Linked DNA regions of Homo sapiens: all the other regions are linked to region 1. The links come from fine-mapping of genetic effects on gene expression. A gene starts in region 1. Each other region holds a variant in brackets. All regions are shown on one strand. Distances are from middle to middle.

Evidence for each region.
Region 2: its variant is fine-mapped to the expression of ATP6V1A in whole blood (TOPMed, PIP above 0.99).
Region 3: its variant is fine-mapped to the expression of ATP6V1A in whole blood (TOPMed, PIP above 0.99).

Annotation. Positions count from the first base shown.
Region 1 is chr3:113,742,073-113,750,255 of GRCh38, forward strand. It overlaps ATP6V1A (ATPase H+ transporting V1 subunit A), which reads left to right and starts at 4,963. Exons shown (of 15, transcript NM_001690.4): 1 at 4,963-5,041. It overlaps NAA50 (N-alpha-acetyltransferase 50, NatE catalytic subunit), which reads right to left and starts at 4,177. Exons shown (of 5, transcript NM_025146.4): 1 at 3,870-4,177. The coding sequence starts at 3,877. RefSeq lists enhancers at 3,021-3,757, 3,361-3,510, 3,758-4,493, 4,494-5,229, 4,551-4,920 and a silencer at 4,081-4,200.
Region 2 is chr3:113,835,778-113,843,960 of GRCh38, forward strand. It overlaps GRAMD1C (GRAM domain containing 1C), which reads left to right and starts at 3,011. Exons shown (of 18, transcript NM_017577.5): 1 at 3,011-3,159. The coding sequence starts at 3,133. RefSeq lists a silencer at 3,024-3,223. The variant C/T (reference allele first, on the strand shown) is at 3,434.
Region 3 is chr3:113,823,468-113,831,650 of GRCh38, forward strand. It overlaps a transcript of GRAMD1C not described here. Among named protein-coding and RNA genes, the nearest start is that of GRAMD1C, 11 kb to the right of the region's middle. RefSeq lists an enhancer at 7,431-7,580. The variant C/T (reference allele first, on the strand shown) is at 3,595.

The sequences.
Region 1 (8,183 bases):
CAACACAGCAAGGGCACATTACAAAGTATTTGTTAAAATTCACTATCTCAATCAACAAACCACAAATTGTTTCACAGAAGGAAGAAGTATAAACTGTAGGTTTATAAAAGGTGTCAAATGCTACGTCAGCCTGACTAGCTTTTGGTTTTGCTGAAAAACAAAACAGCAATAAACCTTTAAAAAAAGTTTTGTTTTGTTTTGTTTTTTAAGACCAGTTTTCGCTCTGTTGCCCAGGCTGAAATATAGTGACAAGATCATGGCTCTCTGCAGCCTTGAACTCCTGGGCTCAAGTGATCCTCCTGCCTCAGCCTCCCAAGTAGCTGGAACTACAGACTTGCACCAGCATGCCTGGCTTTTTTTTTTTTTTTTTTGAGACAGAGTCTCACTCTGTCGCCCAGGCAGGAATGCAGTGGCACGATCTCAGCTCACTACAACCTCCACCTGCCAGGTTCAGGTGATTCTCCTGGCTGCTTTATTGTTTGTAGAGACAAGGTCTCACTATGCTGAGATGCAAAAAGCATTCCTTTTGCCCCTTCCCAGTCCATATGCTGTCAGAGGTAACCACTGTTCGGAGTTTTTAAAGTTTTGTTTCTGACTGCAGAATCTTACATTTTAATTTTATTTGGTAAAATGGCTCCCTTTACTATTCCAATTAGTAGTCAACATTGTTCCATATTTATATTACTGCTACCTACTTTCCCATCTTAGTCACGTATTCACATTTTGTTAAAGACATTTTTTATTAGAACTAATTTGCACCTCTTTACTACAATTGAAGGCTAAATGATTTGGTTTTATTATACTTTCCATTACACTGCCTAATTACATTGCCACCTCAGTCATGGTTATCTGTGGCATACCTTCTTGCTTGAAATCGCCTTCCCTAGAGAAGAACAGATAAAAATATCACCCACAAATTCAAACTACAATGTCCCTGGTTCATAAAAACAGCCAACCTCAAAAGTAAGCAACATTTCCTAGTATATCTCAAACTTCTACATGTGCATATAAATTACATTCAGTAGTTAATAACCGGAAATTTATCTTCTATGGAGGAAAGACATGCCAATACAATGGAAAGTCCTACTGCTACTACTAATAAAAATACTCATGGTAAAAATATGAAGAAAAACCAGCTAAGTTTTAAGTTTCAATATGATAGGCAACATAGGCAACAGTGTACAATTTTAAATATTTGACTGGCTTCGTGTTGGGACTTCCGCAGTTTCCAATTTTAGATATTTCAATTTACTGTTTACTTACCTCAATATACAATAGAATACTTAGCAAATAAAATTTCATACAAAAGCCACATAACCAGGACCACTGTTTCGTTTTTACAGGCCATTCCAAATTAAGAGTCAGGACTTTAAAATCGACCACACTGTGCACTGTGGTACAAGTTTTGGAACTCAAGGCGCTTAACTTATTTTAAACCTATACTGTTGTAGGTTCAGTATCCGAACAAGCACAAGTAAGATTCACACAACTCATTTGTTGAGTGTCTTAAATACAGACTTAGAAGCAAAAAAAATTAAAAAGTTTCATCTCATCTGGGAGTTAGTTCATTTGTTAAGTTAAAGGGATTATTCCTGTGAAATCATCTTAAAGGTTTACAGTAAAGAACACAATTCTAAGCTCCCAATCATAAGAAGTAATAGGAACTTCACTGGCATAGTTACTGGCATAAAGGTACAGATTCAATAGTTGTAAGTTTCCTCTAAATTCGGCCAGTTATTTCTAGGGATCTGCCTTCATCAGGTTACATGTAAATACCCATTTTAAACAGAGATAATTGCTCCATGAATATATTAATTCAAGGTAGATTGTGAATAATATGACTGTTCAGCTTCATTTCTATCGCCAAGTTATGTATCAGAAAGAACATCACAGCCTATGGAGACTGAACTAGATTGAAGATTTTGGATCTAAACATACAGAATAATTTCCTGGCAACCCCTTCGTAAATCCATGGCAATTTCAACACTGGGAACTCTTCAGCCTCATTTTTCTTACTTAACAGAACATGACAAACAAGTACTGAGTGCCTGACAATGAGTACAAAAATGAGTAAGAGTCAGCAACCATGTTCAAGAAGTGCAGTATATGCCGCGTTCAGTGGCTCACACCTGTAATCCCAGCACTTTGGGAGGCAGAGGTGGGTGGATCGCTTGAGCTCAGGAGTTTGAGACCAGCCTGGCCAACATAGTCAGACCCCCGTCTCTACAAAATATACAAAAAATTAGCAAGGCGTGGTGGTGCGCGCCTGAGGTCCCACCGACTCGGAAGGCTGAGGCGGGAGGATTGCTTGAGCTGGGGAGGCAAAGGTTGCAGTGGGCCGAGATAGCGCCACTGCACTCCAGCCTGGGCAACAGAGCCAGACCCTGCCTCATTAAAAAAAAAAAAATGAAAAGAACAAAACAAAAGGAGTGCAGTATAGCAGAAAAACAACATTCTCCAAATATGTTGGATTGTATCTGAAATAGCCAAACTTCCAAGATCATGATTCAAGTGGAGCAAATACTTCCTATACCCGTCAATTATATTTCCCTAACTGGAACTCTTTACAACTTGATGTGAAACAATGCAGGTACTGTGAATAGTTCATGGTTCTTAAACTTTAAAGATTATTAGTACAAAACATACAATTCAACATTAGAATAAATATCCAGTATTTAAAGGAAAATTAAAGTAAGGAAACATGTTACAGACCTAAGACCAAATTAAACTTTCTTGGAATCTCTTCAGGAACCTCAAATACCGATACACAGAGGTAATATTTAGGTCCTTGTTTGGGGCAGTATGAGATTACGTTGAAAGTGACTTTTATTTCATCCTCAAAAGTGCTATTGAATAGTTGGAATGACTTCGTTAACTTAAAACATAGTTACGACTTCTTAATCGACTTACAACAACAAACTATGGCATCGCAGAGAGCTTTTTAACGTTTATGAGCTTCATCTCTTTGAGGGTAAAGACAAGCTCCAAAACGGCTTGAGACAATGCTTCGGAAAAATGTTACGTAATTAATACATTAAAACTATACAACTTAATGGTAAGGAGACATTTCATAAAAACTTAACCAGTCGATCCAAAATAATTCCTAATTTTACGTAAGAGGCAAACGGTGAAAGACCGAACATTAACTTTGCCAATCACCTGAAAGGAGCAGCGTGGTAGAACTACCCAGGACCGCCTCAGCACTCAGGGGCAATAGTGAACTACTGAAGCAACAGCTCCACCTACTGATCCACCCTATACTTCCTTAAATATGTTGGCACCCCAAGTCTACAGTGATCGCGCTCTCTCCCCCTCCTCCACTCGCTGTGACCCAACCCAAATCTAGTTGAGTCACTAGCTCTTAATACTCATCCCCGTGCTCTTTATTCCAATTTCTTCTTCCTCCAGAAGGTTCTGCACAGCTCCCAAGCGTGAATTAAACTGAAAGGTGTCAAACACCGCAGTTCCAGAGTTGAGTCTGGAGGTGGAAGACAACCAAACCACTCCACCTGGAGCTGCGGGCCGGCGTGGCTCAGCGGTCCGCTCCCGGGAAGGAGGCCCCGGGCGCTTCACAATAGCCTTTCCATGTTGCCCCACTCGGTCGCTTCTCCCCACTCAACAACCCACACTCGTCTCCGAACCGAAACCCTGAAGCCCCCCGGGTCTTGCCTCCGCTGGCCCTTCAGCCCGCCAACAGCCCGAGCCTCGCCTCCGCCCCCTCCGGGAGCCGAGGGAACTGAGAAGCAGAGAAATCTCCCTCCGCCCGTCTTCGCCCTGAATCTCTCCTCGCCTTTGCGGCTCTCCCCCTCTACATGGGCCCGGACCCTTCTACCCCACCGGCCGGGCCCTGCCCGGCTGCCCTTCCTCACCCTTTCATCTTCCCCGCCTGCTGAGGCCGTCGTTACCACCGATATCAACGCCGTCGTAGTCGCCGCCCTTAGGTCTCCGCACCCTTAGCTCGGGCCACTCAACCCCGCAAGCCGGCCTCCTAGCCTGGGCAGGGAGCTGTGCGAGCAACGAAGGCCGCGAGAGTCGAGTGAGGGCTTGAGTCTGGTGGGGGCGGGAGTGTCTCCCGCCGCCGCGCTTGTGCCGCCGCTTCTCCACACGTGCACTCGGGTCTCTCGGCTCCCTCCCGCCGCTGCCGCCAGCCAGACCCGCTGCCGCGCTGTGACCTTTCACCCCGCCCCTCGCGCGCCGGCGCGCCGCCGCCTCACGCGCAGCCGCACTGCTCGCCTCCGCGCACCCTGCCCCCTCCACTCCGGAACCTCCATCTTTCTCCTGGACTGGGCCTTCTGGGGTCATGCTCCTCCCTCCCACCCGCTTACGACACTGCTTGTGGGGCTGGCTCGGTAGGCCCTGGCGGTAAAATCCAGATTTTTCCACCCCTCCCTCTCTTGTCCCATATCCGCAAGATAGTTTTTCTCAGCCCCGTTCTTCCCAGTTTGTGGTCTCCAGAGTGACCTTCAAACGCTGTTGCCTCCTAGTAGGGTTTTATAAAGTTAGTTCTTCTAAATGTAAAGAAATCTGTGGAAAGCTCAAGTTTAAGTTAGGTGTTTTAAAACAAACGTAGTTAACAATCGGCCAGATAGATTGGCTACCCTCCAGCACGCCTCAAGTTTTAAGATCACGTGATTGGCCCAAACCTCAGAGCCTGGAATTTTACCGGCGGACTCCAGAGGGACGGAACGCCACCGCCATTTCCTGTCCCTCGATTGTGGCGTGAACGTCACTTCCTTAGCAATGCGCTTTAACTCTTGCTGTCCACATTTTCCACATTGTACTTTATAACATACTCTTTGTGAAAATTTATCTTTTATTTCTTTAATCCAAGAAAATTAATATTCAAGGGATCCGTAAAAATTCAGGCCCCCCGAGATGTAGAGCGCTGGGATGGAGGAGGCAGGGCGGAGCTCGACGTCATGTGACTGGTTGGGCCCGCCCCCCCCCCCCCCCCCAACCTGTGCAGCTGAGGACTTCCCCTCCGTGGTGACAGCCTCTGGGTCCTCGGTCGGTACAGTCTCTGCACCTCGCGCCCCAGCAGGTGAGCGGCGACCGGTAACTGGCGAGTGGTGGGGATAGAGGGGGTGGAAGGAGGCAGAGGAAGGAGAGAAGGGAGAGTGTGAACGGCGACTTTTCTGCCTGAGGCTTCCTCCCCGCTGTCACCCTGCACCGGCAAGGAGCTCATTTCTCCTTAACCCCCGCTCCCCCAAGTGTGGTCGTTCCCGCTACTTGGGGATTCAGATGTCCACCTTTCCCAGGGTTGGAAGTGAGTGCGGCCATTATGGTTCCCTACTCAGAGCCTTTGGGGCTTCGGGTAGCAGATTGTTTCAGCCATTTCACAGGGTCTGCAGTAGACATTAGGTCCCATTCCTTAAAGCCCATTCTTTGGCAAAGGTCCTCACTGTCCTTACCCTCAGCTCAGGGCTGAGGAGCGGGGAGGTAGCAAAAACCCTGGAGGCAGAGGCGTCTCCGGTGAGACAGGCTTGGGAGGGACTGTCACTGATACGGCCCTCACTGCAGAGTCACTGTGAAGCTTCCCTCCGAATGTGCTTTCTCAGTGATTCTAAGGATTTTATCTGACATACCTGCAGGGAAGGTTCCGTAGATGTTCACGTGCTTCGGATGGGACTAGAAAAGTAAAAGAAGGGCTTTTACTTTTTCTTCTCTGCAGAGAGGACAGTTGAAGGAATACTGTCTTCAAAACAGGAGGTGTTAGTAATGCGACAGTCTCGATTGAATGAGGAGGCGTTGAAAGATGGTATTGTGGTGTTGTGGTGTGCAGGAGGCCCAGGCTGGTTTAGGGAAGAGTGAGTAGGGTTCCCTGAAACCGAAATAAGAAACTGATTGGGTTGGAAATAGTTAAACCAAATTGATTTGGCCATATGCTTAAAGGTAGAATCAAGTCGAGATGTTGCTGTCTGCACATGTTTTCTGCCGTCAATCCTTCCCTTTTTGTCATTTTCCCCTAAAATACTACTGAATTGGCACTCCCAATCTATTCCTTGATCGGCTTTGTGGTAAATTTAGGTTAAGTAGCATTTGTATCCCTCTTTAGCTTTCCCCATTTGTAAAACTCCCGGTGCCCTCTTCAGATTTTGATGAATAGTATTTTGTGAAAATACAGAAATTGTTGTCCAATTGAAAATACAGGTGTTGTCCAACCCAAGTACTCCCATTCCGTCCATAATGTATTATTACCAATGTTTTGATCCCAAACAATGTGCTTTAGGGAAGAATGTTTTTCAGTTTGTGGTTAAACTCTTTTATTTATACTGCAAACTCAGAAAATTCCATGCTGCTTTTCAATTGAAGGTCTTACGAATATTACAAATTTGATTTTTAAAATTTAAATTACACCTTTCTTAATATGAAAAATTATATGCTCAGTTAAATCTTGTAGTTTTCTAACTAAGGTAATTAAAGAAGACTGCTGGAAAATGAGGAAGATGGAATCATCTTTGGTGGATGTGACTGATTTATTTTTGTTTTTCTGTGTCTTCCAAATTCTATACAATAAACGGTCTTATTTTGTTAAGGAGAATAAAAAGTTAAAATTCTACAATAGCAGCAGTTTAACAAAGTATTTTTATAGTAAGTGCAAAATACATAACCTAGCTTATTGATGCTCCTTAGTAGAAAACATAACCTCGGAGATGTTGCTTTCCCCAAGTAATGAAGATTACTACTATCTCTTGTGGATTTACCATTTTAGCATTTCGTACTTACGACCCATACTGGACAATAGACTAATGTATTGATATATTTATGTCATCATGCCTGCTGTAGATATATATATGTAGTTTTATCCATTAATTTTCTCCATAATAAGGTTCCTTGATCTCTAGAGGAGAGGGGAAGAAAAAAAGGAAGTGTTACTTCAGTGACCAGGTGACATTGCACCACGTAAGGAGAATTCCTTATGTGGTCTGGAAGTCCTAACTAGTCCTGTCTGGCTGAGACCAAAATGTGAAAGAGAAAACCAGCTAGAAGCATTGACTACTAGAGGGGAAAATGTCAGTATGAAAGTGGTTGGATGAGTCTGCAGTTTTACTTCACAATTCCCCCAGTTTTAGGGAACTCGTGAAAGCAATAACTTAGACCACTGATGAAATGTAGATTAGTAGTGGGAATTGGTGATTACATTGCTAGTAAGGTTAAATGTGAAAAAAAGCTTTGACATTATACACAGATCACACACACACACACACACACACACACACACACACACACACACGATTGGAAGCCTGGAAAACATTTCTGAGACTAGCCTTATCAGTTTATGAGTGTTACATGTAGAAATCTTAACATTTATTAGGGAATTGTGCTATAGTCCACTATTAAATAAAGCATAAGGGTTTGGTTTTATTTTAGGGCCCTTGGCACTTCTGGTTTTCTTTTCCTGAGTTCTTGTTTTCAGTGCCTTTATAGATTTTTGCCACCACTAAGAATGCTTTCTTCCCCATGGGCAGAGGTAGCCACTCAGTCCTATAGACTACTACTAATCATCATCATCATCTTTTCTATTCTTCTACTTGCACTTCTAGCATTGTATTTAATTCCTGTTCCCTGGGCTCTTCCTCAGCAAATCATAAAGCTCTCAGGACTGTGAACTATAATACTATTGTGTCTTCAGCACCAGAATACTGAAGTACCTGATAGGTACTCAATAAATTATTTATTGAATGAATGTTGGGCAATTAGACAAAGAAATTAAACCACTTTAATTTTTGCAGATCATAGCTCTTCCTAAAGTTGTGCACTAAATGTTAGCTTTTAAATATAAACTGGTAATAACCTTCCAAATTCATGGTCAATACAATAGATAAAAACCTCAGATGGACTTTATTAATGCTGAGACCAACTTATTTTCACAGCATGTTTGTTTACTAATAAGTATGGTTATCATCAAAATATGGGAGAGAAGGGAAGAGGAATGAATCGTACTAAATGAAAAAGTGGCTCTGCGTGATCTATAAGTGGACTAGCACTAGACTAAAAGTCAGAGGATCTTCATTCAGCTCTGCCACTTTAGTTATATGTCCTTTTACGTAATGCTGGGGAGGGGTTCAGGTTTGATACTTAGGAACCTTCCTATGACATAAACCCTAGGTAATCTATGTGAAAATATCTTAAAAACTAAGTGGTGTCTGTAATCCCAGTGCTTTGGGAGGCCAAGGCGGGCA
Region 2 (8,183 bases), 94 kb after region 1:
CCAGTGGCCTTCTTTTTGTCTTACTCTATCATGATCATACAGTGGCCTTGCTTAATATTAGTGTTCTGTGACGTTTTTTATGTTTAACAGAACACAGTTTATGCAAAGTTTTGCAGAATGAGGATGGAAACCTGTCTTTTACTGATTATCTTATTAAGTAATTTGTCCTTTAGTATGTCATATATATTTAAGAAATATGCTCATGGCCAGGTGCAGTGGCTCACGCCTGTAATCTCAGCACTTTGGGAGGTTGTGGCGGGTGGATCACTTGAGGCCAGGAATTTGAGACCAGCCTGGCCAACATGGTGAAAGCCCATCTCTACTAAAAATACAAAAATTAGCCGGGCATGGTGGTGGGCGCCTGTAGTCCCAGCTACTCAGGAGGCTGAGGCAGGAGAATTGCTTAAACCTGGGAGGCAGAGGTTACAGTGAGTCAAGATTGTGCCACTGCACTCCAGTCTGGGGGACAGAACGAGACTCTGTCTCAAAAAAACAAAAACAAAACAAAACAAAAAAGAAATACACTCAGTGTCTGACATTTTGTGGAACTGGATTCAACTCCTTTCCATCTCTTCAACTTTACATTATGATTTTTAAATATATGTAAACAGTAAAAGAATAACTGAATAGTAGTATACCCTCCACTTAGGTCCAATAATTAACGTTTCGCTATTTTGTTTTCTCTGTGTATTCATCTTCGTGGAAGCATTTGGAAGCAAGTTGCAGACATGGTGCTACTTCACTCCTAAATACTTTTTTTTTTTTACATCCCCATGGATAACAGGGAACTCCTAAATATTTTAGTGTGAGTTTTCTAATATTAAAGACACCCTGCAACATAGCCACAAGTTATTATTATTATTATTATTTATTATTATTATTTGAGACGGAGTTTCACTCTTCTTGCCCAGGCTGGAGTGCAATGGCCTGATCTCGGCTCCCTGCAGCCTCCACTTTCCAGGTTCAAGCGATTCTCCTGCCTCAGCCTCCCAAGTAGCTGAGATTACAGGTGCTCACCATCACGCCCGACTAATTTTTGTATTTTTAGTAGAGACAGGGTTTCACCATGTTGGCCAGGTTGGTCTCAAACTCCTGACCTCAGGTGATCCTCCCACCTCAGCCTCCCAAAGTGCTGGGATTACAGGCTTGAGCCACCACGCCCAGCTGCCAAAAATTATTAATTATCCATAAATGAATATCCATAAATGTATACATAAATCATTAATTATCCTGTAACATCAACTCTAATAGCCATTTCATATTCACTATTCCTCAATTGTTCTAGAATGTCTTCCCTCCCTCCCTTCCTTCCTTCTTTCCTTCCTTCCTTCCTTCCCTCTCTCTCTCTTTCTTTCTCTCTCTCTGTCTCTCTTTTCTGGAGATGGGGCCCCCCTGTTTTGCCCAGGCTGGTCTTGAACTCCTGGACACAAGCAACCCTCCCACCTTAGTCTCCCAAAGTGCTGGAATTACATGAGTTAGCCACTGTGCCTGGCTTAGAATGTCTTTTTTATAGCTGTTTGGTTGGGAACTCTGAACCCCAAATATCTGAGACAGGCCTCAGTTAATTTAGAAAATTTATTTTGTGAAGGTTAAGGACACACCTGTGACACAGTCTCAGGAAGTCCCAATGACATGTGTCCAAGGTGGTTGGGGTACAGCTTGCTTTTATATATTTTGGGCAGACCTAATACATCAATCAATACATGTAAGATTTACATTGTTTCAATCTGGAAGGGGAGACAGCTCCAAGGCGAGAAGGAGGAACTTTCAGGTCATTGGTACATAAAAAAATTTTCTGATTTGCAATTGGTTGAAAGCGTTATTATTGACTGGGAGCTGTGGCTTGCACGTGTAATCCCAGCACTTTGGGAGGCCGAAGGGGGCAGACTGCTTGAGTCCAGGAGTTCGAGACCAGTCTGGGCAACATGGCGAAACCCTGTCTCAAAAAACAAACAAACAAACAAACAAACAAACAAACAAAGTAGTTAAGCATGGTGGCACACGCCAGTAGTCCCAGCTACTCGAGAGGCTGAGGTGGGAGGATTGGTTGAGTCCGGGAGGTGGAGGTTGCAGTGAGCAGAGATTGCGCCACCGCACTCCAGCTGGTCTAATAGAGCCAGAACCTGTCTCAAAAGAAAAAGAGAAAAAAGAGTTATTATCAGTAGAAAGGAATGTCTGGGTTAGGATAAGGGGTTGTGGATACCAAGGTTTTATCATGCAGATGCAGCCTCCAAGTAGCAGGTGTCCGAGGCAATAGATGATAAATATTTCTTCTCAGACTTAAGGTCTGTGTTGATGTTAATGAGGCATGTCCAATCCCCTCTTTCATCATGGCCTGAACTAGATTTTCAGGTTAAATTTGGAACGCTCTTGGCCAAGAGGAGGGGTCCATTTAGATGGCTGGGGGTGGGCCTCGGCATTTTATTTTTGGTTTACAGAACCAAGAATCTGCAATACGTACAGCAGTTAATCAGTAACTTCAATCCTTTATTGGAAGGAACAAGAGTTTCCTGGCCGGGGGCGGTGGCTGACGCCTGTAATCCCAGCACTTTGGGAGGCCAAGGCCAGCGGATTGCCTGAGGTGGGGAGTTCGAGACCAGCCTGACCCACATGGTGAAACCTTGTCTCTACTAAAAATACAAAAATTATCCGGGCGTGGTGGCAGGCGCCTGTAACCACAGCTACTCGGGAGGCTGAGGCAGGAGAATCGCTTGAACTGGGAGGCGGAGGTTGCAGTTAGCCGAGACGGGGCCTTGGCACTCCATCCAGCCTGAGGAATGAGAGCGAAACTCCGTCTCAAAAAAAAAAAAAAAAAGTTTCCGAGCAATTCACCTTTTCGCACATTGGGGCAGGGTATGCCATTTCCTGGGAGGCACAGTAGTTTGAGGTTGGGAATAGGGAAGTCTCATTGTGACCCCTAGAAAGACAAGCCTTCAGGCTAACCCGGTAACACCCATCGTCAGGAATCCTTCACGGCCGCCAGAGGGCGCAAGGAGCTGCGGCTGGAAGTACTCGGAGGGCCGGCGGAGGAGGCGCGCGGAGCCTGTAACTCGCAGCGCGCGCTGGAGGTGGGCGCGGGGCGGTGCGGTGCGGTGCGCGCGGGGCGGTGCCGCGGCGGCGGAGGGAGCCGCGATGGAGGGCGCTCCGACTGTCCGTCAGGTAAGCCGCGGGCCTCGCTGGGGCAGGTTCCCATCTGTGGCTTTAGCCTACTTTTTCTCACGGTGATTGCTTGAACCTTCTCAGATTACAGTTAATCCCTCCCTTCCCTTTTCTTCGTGCTCTTTGGAGTAATACGGAAAGTTGTTACCGAGGAAACGGTTTCCTGTGCCTCTGCGAGCCCTTTCCCTACGGGCGGTGGTGGGGACATTTGCTTCCCTGTGGGCGTTGAGGGCTTGAATTTGGTCCCGAAATGTCCTGGTGCGGATGTCTCAGC[C/T]CCAGGCCCCCTTGGGTCAGGCCCCATGGTCGTGATTCTGACCCACTGTCAACGTTTTTTCCAGCCTTGCCCCCTTCCTTTCATTCTCAGCCCTGTTGTAAAGGTCCGGATAGTTTAAATCACTGTGCTGTCAGCCAAGTTTTTGATTTCAACTAGTCTAGTTTTATTTGTTTACTACCTTATTTGACAAAACGGAAAGCGTGCTTATTAATATTCAGGATGAAACCCCGCTTTTGTTGGACGGGCGCCTGCGTTTCTGAACACCATCCTCCTTCTACATTGGTTTGTGTGTATGTATTTTACTTTTAGAGAACTGCGGTCAGTGCTATATCTTCTGAAGAGCGTTATAGTTTACAGATTAGTGGAGGTACACAAATAATTGTTGAATGAACAGATGAATGAGTGTTATTTCACTTGATTTGAAAAACATTACTATGAAATAGTCAAGCTGGATATTCATGAACCCAATCAGTCACTGATTCAGTTATGTCCCTGGCACTGGGTGTTCGGGATTAGATGGTGATTAACACAGACATGATCCCTGCTCTCAATAAGCTTATTGTCTAGACTAGAGATAAAATTATTTCCTCTATTGTAGAGTTAAGGAACAGATGTACAGAGATTGACTTTGCTAAGGACCACACAGCTAATAAGTCAGAGAGACAGGAATCTACTGTAGCCACCCCAGAAAGCCAGAATGGACCCCCATCCCAAATTTGATTCAGGTGTAGAAACTGATGATGCCACACACACACCATGAGGTTGGAGTAGAAACTGATGATGCCACACACACACCCTGAGGTTGGAGTGCAGTGGCGCAATCTCGGCTCACTGCAAGCTCTGCCTCCCGGGTTCACGCCATTCTTCTGCCTCAGACTCCCCAGTAGCTGGAACTACAGGCGCCCGCCACCACGCCCGGCTAATTTTTTGTGTTTTTAGTAGAGACGGGGTTTCACCGTGTTAGCCAGGATGGTCTTGAACTCCTGACCTCATGATCCGCCCGCCTCGGCCTCCCAAAGTACTGGGATAACAGGCTTGAGCCACCACCGCGCCCGGCCCTGAAAAAGTCTTTTACTTACATAATTAAGGTCTCCAGGGAGAGCAAGGCAGGCCTCTCAAGCAGCACTAAAATGGCTTAAGAGAGCCTCAGGAAAAAACTGGCTCCAGGTCTTTTTTTCACCCTTGATGTTTGATGACTGACCTGCACCATTTGAATTTGAATTTGAATTTAAGTCAGCCATTGTGGCCCAGTGCAGTGGCTCATGCCTGTAATTCTAGCACTTTGGGAGGCCAAGGCAGAAAGAAGTATCGCTTGAGGACAGGAATTTGAGACCAGCCTGGGCAACAAAGCAAGACCCTGTATCTACCAAAATAAAAAAAAAAAAGAAAGAAAAATTAACTGGGCATGGTTGTGTGGCGCCTGTGGTCCTAGCTATTTGGGAGGCTGAGATAGGAAGATCACTTGAGCACAGGAGGTTGAGACTGCAGTGACCCCTGTTTGTGCCATTGCACTCCAGCCTGGGTGACAGAGACCAAATTATTTTCAGAAATTTAACCAAGGTGGTAGGCCTTACACTATGTGTGGCACAATAGCCCATCCTCCTTTTGTGAGCTCCTTTGTGAGTATGTCAAAAGACTGTCCTCAGGGGAGGATGTCATCAATGGAATGTTATACTTGTGCTCCTGGAGAAAATTTGATGCAGTTAAGATCTTTCCTGTAAAGGCTGTGTATGATGGCAAGACTGCGTACTCTATGGTTAGCCTGGTAAAGAGATGTTATGTCTCTCTGGAGGTGAAGACCAACTATGGCTGAGGAGGTGTTGAAAGAGACACTGAACAGAACATATTAGCCAAATCTATCACAGCAAAATATTTACTAGTTGTGGACTGGATAGTCAGTAATTTCAACAATGTTGAGTATAGGGGCCTTCCTGGGTAAAATGACATCATCGAGGATGCAGTAATGAACCATGAGGTACCATTCATTCTTACCAAATTTAACAGGCCAAATTGGGCTGTTAAATGGAGAAGCAGTAGGGATAATTACTTTCACAAAGTACTTCTTTCTTTCTTTCTTTTTTTTTTTTTTTTGCGAGACAGAGTCTTGCTCTGTCGCCCAGGCTGGAGTGCAGTGGCACAATCTCAGCTCACCGCAACCTCCACCTCCCGGGTTCAAGCAATTCTCCTGCCTCAGCCTCCCAAGTAGCTGGGATTACAGGCACGTACCACCACGCCCAGCTAATTTTTGTATTTTGTTTTAGTTGAGATGGGGTTTTACCATGTTGGTCAGGCTGGTCTTGAACTCCTGACCTCGTGATCCACCTGGCTTTCCCTCCCAAAGTGCTGAGATTACAGCATGGCGTGAGCCACCGTGCCTGGCTGAAGTAGGTCTTACATAACAAGTTTTAGTCCTTGAAGGCCCTGTTTTGTTTTATATTGGGTTGTATAATTTTAACTGGGCATTGAGAGTGGTGGTCCATAGGGTCTCACTGTTTTGTTTATTTTGAGACAGAGTCTTGCTCTGTCACCTGGGCTGAAGCACAATGGTGCAATCACAACTTACTGTGATCTCCAACTCTTGGACTCTGGCAGTCCTCCCACCTCAGCCTCCCAAGTAGCTAGGACTACATGTGTGTACCACTATGCCAGGCTAATCTTTAAATTTTTGTAGAGAGGGGGCCTTGCTGTATTGCCCAGCTTGTTCTCCATACTCTTGGCCTGAAGTGATCCTCCTGCCTCAGTCTCCCAAAATGTTGGGATTATACGTGTGAGCCAACATACCCAGCCTGTTGTCCCACTTCTTTGAAAGCCAATTTGTAAGCTCTAAAGACTTGATTTAAATTTAGTTTATTACTAATTGTGTCAGAGTGTCCATGGCCACAATAGGATATTTCAGGGCAATGTATACCACCATCGTGGAGTATTTAGGCAAAGGTATAGTTCTGATGGTTAAAGTGAGGCATACCTATTTGTTGTCTATTTTATGTTGAATAACTCCTAAGATTGTAGGGGATACCTTGTTTAAATTTAGTGGGAACTCTAGGTATAACTGTAATTTGAGACCCAATATTGATTAAAGCCATGAAGATTTGCCAATTGCCGCATTTTAGCTGATGTTGAAGTTAACTTAGAACCTATGTTGTAGAGGCACAAAAGCCAGTCTTTTATCTTTTATCCTGTAAATTATTTTAAATTCTGTATGTTTTGTTAGATCAGTTTATGGACTTCAGTTTCAGTTTTTTTTGTTTGTTTTTGTTTTGCTGTTGTATGTTTCCTCCCCTTCTATCCAGGTTTGTTGGTTTCTCCCTCTCTTTTTGGAGGTTACTGGATATACTTCAGGTGGAGGAGGTCTTCTCTACCCTCTCATGTTTACAAATTTCTTTCTCTAGAGAGCCTCAAATCAGTATCATTGTGATTAGAGGCTTCCCCCATGGCAATGGTTATTTATAGGGTTTAAGAACCTCAAGTTTGGCCAGGTGCAGTGGCTCACGCCTGTAATCCTAGCACTTTGGGAGGCTTAGGTGGGCTGATCACGTGAGGTCAGGAGTTTGTGACCAGCCTGGCCAACATGGTGAAACTCCATCTCTACTAAAAATACAAAAATTAGCCGGGTGAGGTGGTGCACGCTTGTAATCCCAGCTACTCGGGAGACTGAGGCAGGAAAATCGCTTGAACCCGGGAGGTAGAGGTTGCAGTGAGCCGAGATCACGCCACTGCACTCGAGCCTAGGCGACAGAGTGAGACTCTGTTTCAAAAAAAAAACAAAACAAAAAGAACCTCAAGCTTAAGTGGAGCAGCAGCAGCAGAGATATTTAAGGATCCTGGTCCACCATAAGCTGTTTTTTTTTTTTTTTTTTTTTTTTTTGTTCTTGTTGTTTGTTTGAGACAGGGTTTTGCTTTGCCGGCCAGCCTGGAGTGCTGTAGCTTGATCATGGCTTACTACAGTCTTGACCTCCCAGGCTCAGGCAATCCTCCCACCTCAGCCTCCTGAACAACTGGGACAATAGGCGCATGCCACCATGCCAGGCAAATTTTTTGATATTTTTTGTAGAGACGGGGTCTCACTATGTTGCCCAGGCTGGTCTCAAACTCCTGGGCTCAAGAGGTCCTCCTGCCTCAGCCTCCCAAAGTGCTGGGATTATAGGCATGAGTCACTGTGCCTGGCCCATATGCTTTTATAATGGCTACTCCTCCTTACTCCCCTATTCCATATTTGCTTTTTTCTTTTTTTAACTGCCTGATGAGTGATCTTACTTGAGCAATTACCCGATGGGCCCATATTTTTTTGAGACAGAGTCTGGCTCTGTCACCCAGGCTGGCATGCAGTGGTGTGATCTCGGCTCACTGCAACCTCCTCCTCCTGGGTTCAAGCAATTCTTCTGCCTCAGCTTCCGAGTAGCTGGGACTACAGGCCACCATGCCTGGCTAATTTTTTGTATTTTTAGCAGAGACAGGGTTTCATTATATCGGCCAGGCTGGTCTTGAACTCCTGGCCTCAAGTGATCCCAAAGTGTTGGGATTACAGGCGTGAGCCACCTCGCACAGCTGGCACATCTTATTTGTTTGTTTAAACTCCATTGTTTGTATAAATCAGAGCTTATTTACTAATTTCTCTATTGATGGACGGTGAGGTTATTTCCACTTTCATAGTATTAACAAACATTCTTGACTCTATGTGTATATTAAATTGCTGCATTGCAGTATATGTCTATCTTCTTTCCTACTGGGCATTGCAAATTGTTCTCCAAAA
Region 3 (8,183 bases), 81 kb after region 1:
ATTGAGGCAGAAAGGAGAGGAATGAGAGAGATGGCAGGTCAAATTTAGGTAGGTTAATTTATTTAACACCATAGGTTATAGTGCAACATTAGATAATATAAGGCATCTCATTTCAGAAATTGACACAAGTTGTATTTAAATAATTTATAGTTTAATGAAATGTGAATCTGGAAATCTAATATCCTTAGCAAATGACCTAGGAACTCTCTCAGTTTGTACTTTTCTCTTTTCACTCTAACACTGGCTTCTATTTTGCACATATCCTTATTTTACCAGCCTTAAACTTTGTTCTGTTCAGTGGATCTCATTCTATAGTCCCTGGAAATTTTATCCCTTTCTCTACCCAACTTAACTTAAGCCCGCTTTGTTTGTTTGTTTGTTTGTTTGAGATGCAGTCTCGCTCTGTTGCCAAGGCTGGGGTGCAGTGACACTATCTCGGCTCACTGCAACCTCTGCCTCCAGCCTCCCAAGTTCAAGTGATTCTCCTGCCTCAGCTTCCAGAGTAGCTGTGATTACACGCCACCATGCCCAGCTAATTTTTGTATTTTTTGTAGTGACGGGGTTTCGCCACATTGGCCAGGCTGGTCTCCAATTCCTGACCTCAGATGATCCTCCCACCTCGGCCTCTCAAAGTGTTGGGATTACAGGCATGAGCCACTGTGCCCAGCCTAAGCCTGTTTTTCTATATTGGTTTTTTCCTTTTAAGATATATATATATATATGTGTCTGTATATATTTATCCTACAAAAACTATTCAAATCAAAACAAAAATGTTTGTCAATCCAATACTCAATAAGCAACATTTAAATAAAAACATAATTACTTTCATTGTTTATTTACTTAAAAATATTTATTTTTTAAGTAAATGTTTATTTACAGAAAAATATATAGTATTAACATGGACAATTAAAAAAAACATACATATGTATGTACCCATCACTCAGATTAAGAAATAGAATATGGGGCCGAGCATGGTGGCTCACGCCTGTAATCCCAGCACTTTGGGAGACCAAGGTGGGTGGATCACCTGAGGTCAAGAGTTTGAGACCAGCATGGCCAACATGGTGAAACCCTGTCTCTACCAAAAATTTAAAAATTAGCCAGGCATGGTGGCGCATGCCTGTAATCCCAGCTACTTGGGAGGCTGAGGCAGGAGAATTGCTTAAACCCCGGAGGCAAAGATTGCAGTGAGCCAAGAATGCGCCATTGCACTCCAGCCTGGGAGACAGAGCAAGACTTCATCTCCAAAAAAAAAAGAGAAAGAAATAGAATATTGGAGTAACATAGAAGCCCTCACCAATTGCAACTCTCTTCCTTCCCCAAAGATAAACATTACTCTGATTTTTGTGTTAATCAGTGCCTTGTTTTAATTTATAGATATGTCACCTATGTTCCTGTGTAAGCAAAGGGTGACTGGTGTCACTATCAGATTTTTAAAGCCTTTCAGGAGAAAAGAAACTGATCATAATCTGGCGTTAGGTTCCCGGAGAGTTAATAAACAGTCTTTTTTTAGGGAAGTCAGTGAGCAGGAGCCTTCAGGAATCCTGGAAAGCCTAGGACTCAAGCAGACTTTGAGCACCTGGACCAGATTCTGGATGTTTGGCAAAAATATGGTCAGAGAAAATGGACTGTTCTGTGTTTTCTGCTTCTAAACCCATCATAGCTACCTCTCGTTCTCAGGAGTAAGTCAAACCAGAAATCTGTGGGGTGAAGCAGCAGAGCATGGAGGGAGAATAGGAACTTCACAAGCAAAGTACACAAAAGATTCTGAACATGACTCATAGGGAAATTCTGTCTTCAGCTAAAAAGAAGATAAATGGCAATAGGGATCTTGGTGATGACAGCACTCAATCAGCTTGTCTCTTGAGTTGCATGGCTCCAATCTGGACTACTTGCCTTCTATGTCTAGTCTGCAGCTGTCATTCTGGGATCTACCACTTGGGGAATGCCATCTCTATCCTAGTGCTTGTTTTTCATCGCCCACATTTTATCTTTACTGGTTTCTTAATGAGCTGTTTCTCCAGTAGCTTGTTTCTTAAGTAAGGTGGGTGGCATATTTTTTGAGACATATACATCTGAAAATTAAAATTGCCTAGCAGCATGGAGACAAGGAGATGACCTAGGGATATAACTGCTTTTCAAACAGCTTTGACCTGGCCAGAGTGGTGGCTCATGCCTGTAATCCCAGCACTTTGGGAGGCTGAGATGGGCAGATCACCTAAGGTCAGGAGTTTGAGATCAGCCTGGCCAACATGGCGAAAACCCATCTCTACTAAAAATGCGGGCATGGTGGCGCGCCCCTGTAAATCCCAGCTACTCGGGAGGCTGAGGTAGGAGACTTGCTTGAACCCAGGAGGTGGAAGCTGCAGTGAGTCAAGATGGTGCCACTGCAACCCAGCCTGGGCGACAGAGTGAGACCCCATCTCAAAAATAAAAAAATAAAAATAAAGCAAGCAGCTTTGACCTGAGTCCTTATTTTAGCTACAATTCTACTTCTTTCCTTATTTAATCATCAGTGTCACAGGTATTTTGGTGTTGTCTTCCCATGTTTTTTGGGCATTCTGAGGTGTAAATCAGCTTGGTCCTTGGTTGTCCTAGAGGTCATTTTGGAAAGTCAGTGGGCAGGAGCCCTACAGGCAGTCCTGGAAAGCCTAGGACTCACCAGACTTTGAGCACCTGGACCAGACACTAGATGTCTGGCAAAAATATGGTCAGAGAGAGTGAGTTTTATAATTCAGTTGCAATTCATTCCCCTGCCTTTCAGCTTACAAGTTTCTTGCTCTTGCTTCCTCTCCTGTTCTGTCTGTCCACAACTCCTTTTATTGCAATTTGGGTGGGTTTCAGGAAGGAACAAAGTTAGATACATATGTGTACACACACACACACACACACACACACACACACACACACACACTCACACACACACATTTTAAAAATTTTCCTAGGGATGGATTGCTGTGATGCCCAGGCTGGTCTTGAACTCCTGGCCTCAAGCAATCCTTCCATCTGAGCCTCCCAAAAGCTAGGATTACAGGCATGACCCACTTCATTAGGTCTATAAAGATATGTTAACTCACTATTTATGGGTTAGCAAAACTAGAAAAAAGTGATAAAAATTAACAATGACATTTCCCAAGGATCTATACTAAAACTAGTCATACTGAACATTTAACAAATTTGAAAGAGTGAAGTTTGTAAACTCCTTCAAGCTCTTTCTAATATTGAAATGTGAGTTACAGAGCTGTACTTCAGGAACACTCTACTTAGTGAAGGGGCAAAAAGTGGCATACCATCGGTAGCCCACCTCTGGGCCTCCTTGGGATAAAATAAAGAGGTGACCCTAGGACTGCTGCATGCTTCTGAGCACCCTATCTATTTCCTCAGCACTCATTTCTTCCCCACCAGCCCTGCCCTTAACTCCAAAACTCCCTCCCTAGTGCGTTGTGGAATTCAGGATCAGACATGAACAAAATCTTTTTTTTTTTTTTGAGATGGAGTCTTGCTCTTTCACCCAGGCCGGAGTGCAGTGGCACTATCTCGGCTCACTGCAAGCTCGGCCTCCTGGGTTCATGCCATTCTCCTGCCTCAGCCTCC[C/T]GAATAGCTGGGACTACAGGTGCATGCCACCACGCCCGGCTAATTTTTTGTATTTTAGTAGAGGAGGGGTTTCAACACCATGTCGCCCAGGCTGGTTGTGAACTCCTGAGCTCAGGCAATCTGCCTGCCTCGGCCCCCCAAAGTGCTGGGATTACAGGCGTGAGCCACCGCACCCAGCCAACAAAATCTTCTATAACCTAAGTTCTTTGAGTTTTCTCTGAAAATTCTCTAAAAATCTTTCTTCATCTTGTTCTAACTCAAGGGTGTCCAATCTTTTGGCTTCACTGGGCTGCATTGGAAGAAGGATTGTCTCAGACCACATATAAAATACACTAACACTAGGCCGGGCACAGTGGCTCATGCCTGTAATCCCAGCACTTTGGGAGGCCGAGGCAGGCGGATTGCCTGAGCTCAGGAGTTTGAGACCAGCCTGGGCAACACGGTGAAACCCCGCCTCTACTAAAATACAAAAAATTAGCCGGGCGTGGTGGCATGCACCTGTAGTCCCAGCTACTCAGGAGGCTGAGGCAGGAGAATTGCTTGAACCCGGGAGGCAGAGGTTGCAGTGAGCCAAGATCGCACCACTGCACTCCAGCCTGGGTGACAGAGCGAGACTCCATCTTAAAATAAAATAAAATAAAATACACTAATACTAATGACAGCTGATGGCAAAAAACTCTCATAATATTTTAAGAAAGTTTACGAATTTGTGTTGGGCTGCATTCAAAGCTGTCCTAGGACGCATGTGGCCTGTGGGCCACGGGTTGGACAAGCTTGCACTGATACTTGGTTTTCCCCTGAAACTTGAGAGGAAACGGCTTTCCCTGAAGCCCTCTCAAGTGGTGTCTGTTTCCTCTCCCACACCATCATATCACTTGTAACTTCCCATTGATCTGGCCTTCTTTGATCCTGGCCTCCATTGGCCTCCAATCAATAAGGCCTCCATTGATCCTGGCCTCTATCATTCATGCCCTGTGGAGTCACCTCCCTCAGTGAATCAGAGCTGACTGACCCCAATAGAATGCGGTGTAAATGATAGTCTATAACTTCCAAGGTTAGGTCATAAACGGCACTGTAGTCCTCACCTTGGTATCCTGGATTACCTGCTCTGAGGAAAGGCACTGCCATGCAATGAGGACTGAAGCAGCTCTGTGAAGATGTCCATATGGAGAGGAATTGAGGTCCCAAACCAATAGCCAGTACCAGGTGCCCGGCCATGTAAGTGAGACACCATAGAAGTGGATCCTCCAGCCACTATCAGGTCTTCTGATGACTGGATATCCACTTGATTAAGGGCAACCTCTGAAAGCCCATGAGCTAGAACTGAGGAGCTGAGCTGCTCCAGGTTCCTGACCCACAGAAACCATGAAATAATGAATGATTATTGTTTTCAGCCACTAAGGTTTTGGGTGATTTGTCATGCAACTATAGTAGCTGGAGCACCAATGGGCCCAAGAAAAAGTGATTGTCTTCTTTTTTCCTATTACTTCCAGACTCTTTTCCTTCACTCTTCCCTAACACTCTATCTTTGAATTTCATGTCAGAACACTATGCCACCAGTTGCCTTTTCTTATTGGAGTCATCTATAAACTCACAATCCATGTTCCCTTTTTCATTGAAGATTTTTGCTCCTTGCTCATGTCGCTTTCTTCTACCCTACTCTTTCTGCACTTGGTGATTTCAATAGCCACTAAGGTTATACTTTCAATTCCTGGTTTCTTAGTGCCTTGTCCTCTGCCCCAACAATCTGAACCACCACTCCTGTCAGCCACCCACTCTCATGCTCATATCATAGAACTTATCATTATAACTGCAATTTGTCCACAATCTCAGTTTCAAGTACCATTTGTATCTTTCCAACTCATCACTTCTATCACCAGCAGTCCTTTAATCTCAACTAGATTTACAAACATTTAATCCTCACACTTTCATTGGCCTTGACACTCTTATGACCTTATTTTGCTTCTTAACCCTGCTTGGACTCCAGGGGCAATCATTATTGCCAAATCCTTGCATACATACTTATCTCCCTTGCTTCTCTTGTGACTTAGCGTACTTGCCTGGTAAAAATCAACCTTAGGCTGGGTGCAGTGGCTCACATCTGTAATCCCAGCACGAGGGAAGGCCAGAACAGGAGGATCATTTGAGGCCAGGAGTTAAGACCAGTCTGGGCAACATAGGGAGGCCCAGTCTGTACAAAACAAACAAACAAACAAACAAACAAAACTCCCCAAAACCTAGCTGGATGGGGTGGTGTGGGCCTGTGGCCCCAGGTACTTGGAAGGCTGAGGTGGATCACTTGAGTCCAGAAGGTTAAGACTGCAGTGAACAGTGATCATGCCACTACACTTTAGCTTGGGTAATAGAGAGAGACCCTGTCTCAAGAAACCCTCCAAAACCTCCAACTAAATCCAACTGTGTCCATTCTGTGTTTGCATTTGTGCAACTACAAAAAAAAAATGACACAACTGTGGAGGGTGGTTTCACTTTATTTATTGAGTTATAATAGTTTTTAATTACTTGAAATAAGAAAGTTGCAAGAATAGTGCAAAGGCTTCCCATAAAACTTTTACTCAGATTTTCATGTTTGCTTTATTTATTATTCTCTCTTGGCACACAATTTTTTTTTCTGAAACATTTGGGTGAGCTAGATCAAATATATCAGTGTACAAAGTCATACGTCACTTAACAACTGGGATATGTTCTGAGAAATGCGTCATTAGGCAATTTTGCTGTTGTGCCAACATCCTAGAATGTACTTAAAGAAATCTAAATGGTAGAGCCTACTGAGGTGATGTTGTTGTCTGGGGTAATACCTGAGGTTCGTTGTCCCACGGTCATGGAAAACAAGGACGCAGACAAACCAGGGTGAGGTTCAGAGCAGAAGTTTAATAGGCGAAATAAAGAGAAAAGCTCTCTCTGCTGCAGAGAGAGGGGCCCCAGAGAATATGGGTTGCTGCTTCCATGGTGAAATGCAGAAGGTTGAATAGATGATCTTGGGGAGGTGGTATCTGATTTATATAGGGCACAAAAGATTGGTCGGACCAGGTGTGTCATTTGCATAGCACACGAAGAACTGGTTAGGACTAGGTGTGCGGTTTGCACAGCATGCAAAGAAGCTGGCCACTCCACCCTAATCTTTTATTATGGAGATGGGTTCTCTACATGGCCAGGCACCATGTTGCCTGCCTCTTTACTGTACACGTGGTGACAAAGAAAAGAGAAGAGGACCCTCCCTGTTGAACATGCCTGGCATCCAGGTAGCCCTTTTCTATTGGCACTGAGGCTGGCATTCACCTGTGCAAGCTTTTTAGCTTGCTTATCTATGTTTGCGGCTTGATTTTTCAGGCTGCTCTTTGTTAGAAAAGAAATGTTTTGGTGGCTGCTTTTTGTTAAAAGGGGAGTTCCACCGAGGACTCTTACCCTTACTATCTGCCTAAATTCTATCTCCTGTATTACTACTACACACTTAGGCTATATGGAATAGCCTATTGCTCCTGAGCTATAAACCTGGACAGCATGTTACCATGCTGAATACTGAAGACAGCTGTAACACAATGAGAAGTATTTGTGTATCCAAACATAGAAAAAGTACAGTAAAAATATTGTACTATAATCTTATGGGACCACTGTTTTCTTGTGGTTCACTGTTGAATGCAGTGACTGACACATTGTTATGCAATGCATGACTGCACTTCCTAAAACAAGCACATCCCCATACCTAACCATAGTACAATTATAACAAACAGGAAATTGTATGGGCATGGTGACTCATGCCCGTAATCCCAGCACTTTGGGAGGCCAAGGCGGGTGGGTCACCTGAGGTTAGGAATTCGAGGCCAGGGTGACCTGTAAAAACCCCATCTCTACTAAAAATACAAAAATTGGCCTGGCATGATGGTATGCACTTGAGACTACTCCGGAGCATGAGACAGGAGAATTGCTTGAACCCAAGAGGCAGAGGTTGCAGTGAGCTGAGATCGCACCACTGCACTCCAGCCTGGGTGACAGAGCAAGACTCTGTCTCAAAAAACAAAAACAGGAAATTAACACTGAGTCAATACTATAATGTAACCTACACTTTATTCAAAGTTTTCCAGTTGTCCCAGTAATGTTCTTTATAACAACAACAACAACAAAATGTTTCTGGTTCAGGATCCAAGACAAAATCGCACATTGTATTTAGTTGCTATATATCTTTAGTGTTCTTTAGTATGAAAGAACACTTCAGTCTTTCTTTGCCTTTTATGAGTTTGATGTTTTTGAAGAGTTCAAGTAATGTCCCTCAATTTCAGTTTGTCTGTTTCCTCACAATTAGATTCAGAGTATGCATTTTTGGCACTGTATATTGTTTTGCACCTTACTTTTTTTTAATGTGACAAAATTTTTTGTAGATCTTTATATATCAGTGCATAAAGAGTTTCCTCATTCTTTCTTGGCCATTACTTCTTCAAATATTCTTTCTTTCTTCTCTCCTGGAATTCCCATTTTGTATATGTTGGTCTACTTGGCAGTGTCTTACAGGTCTTATGGGTTCTGTTCATTTTTCTTCACTTTTTTTTCTTTCTGCTCCTCAGACTGAATAATCC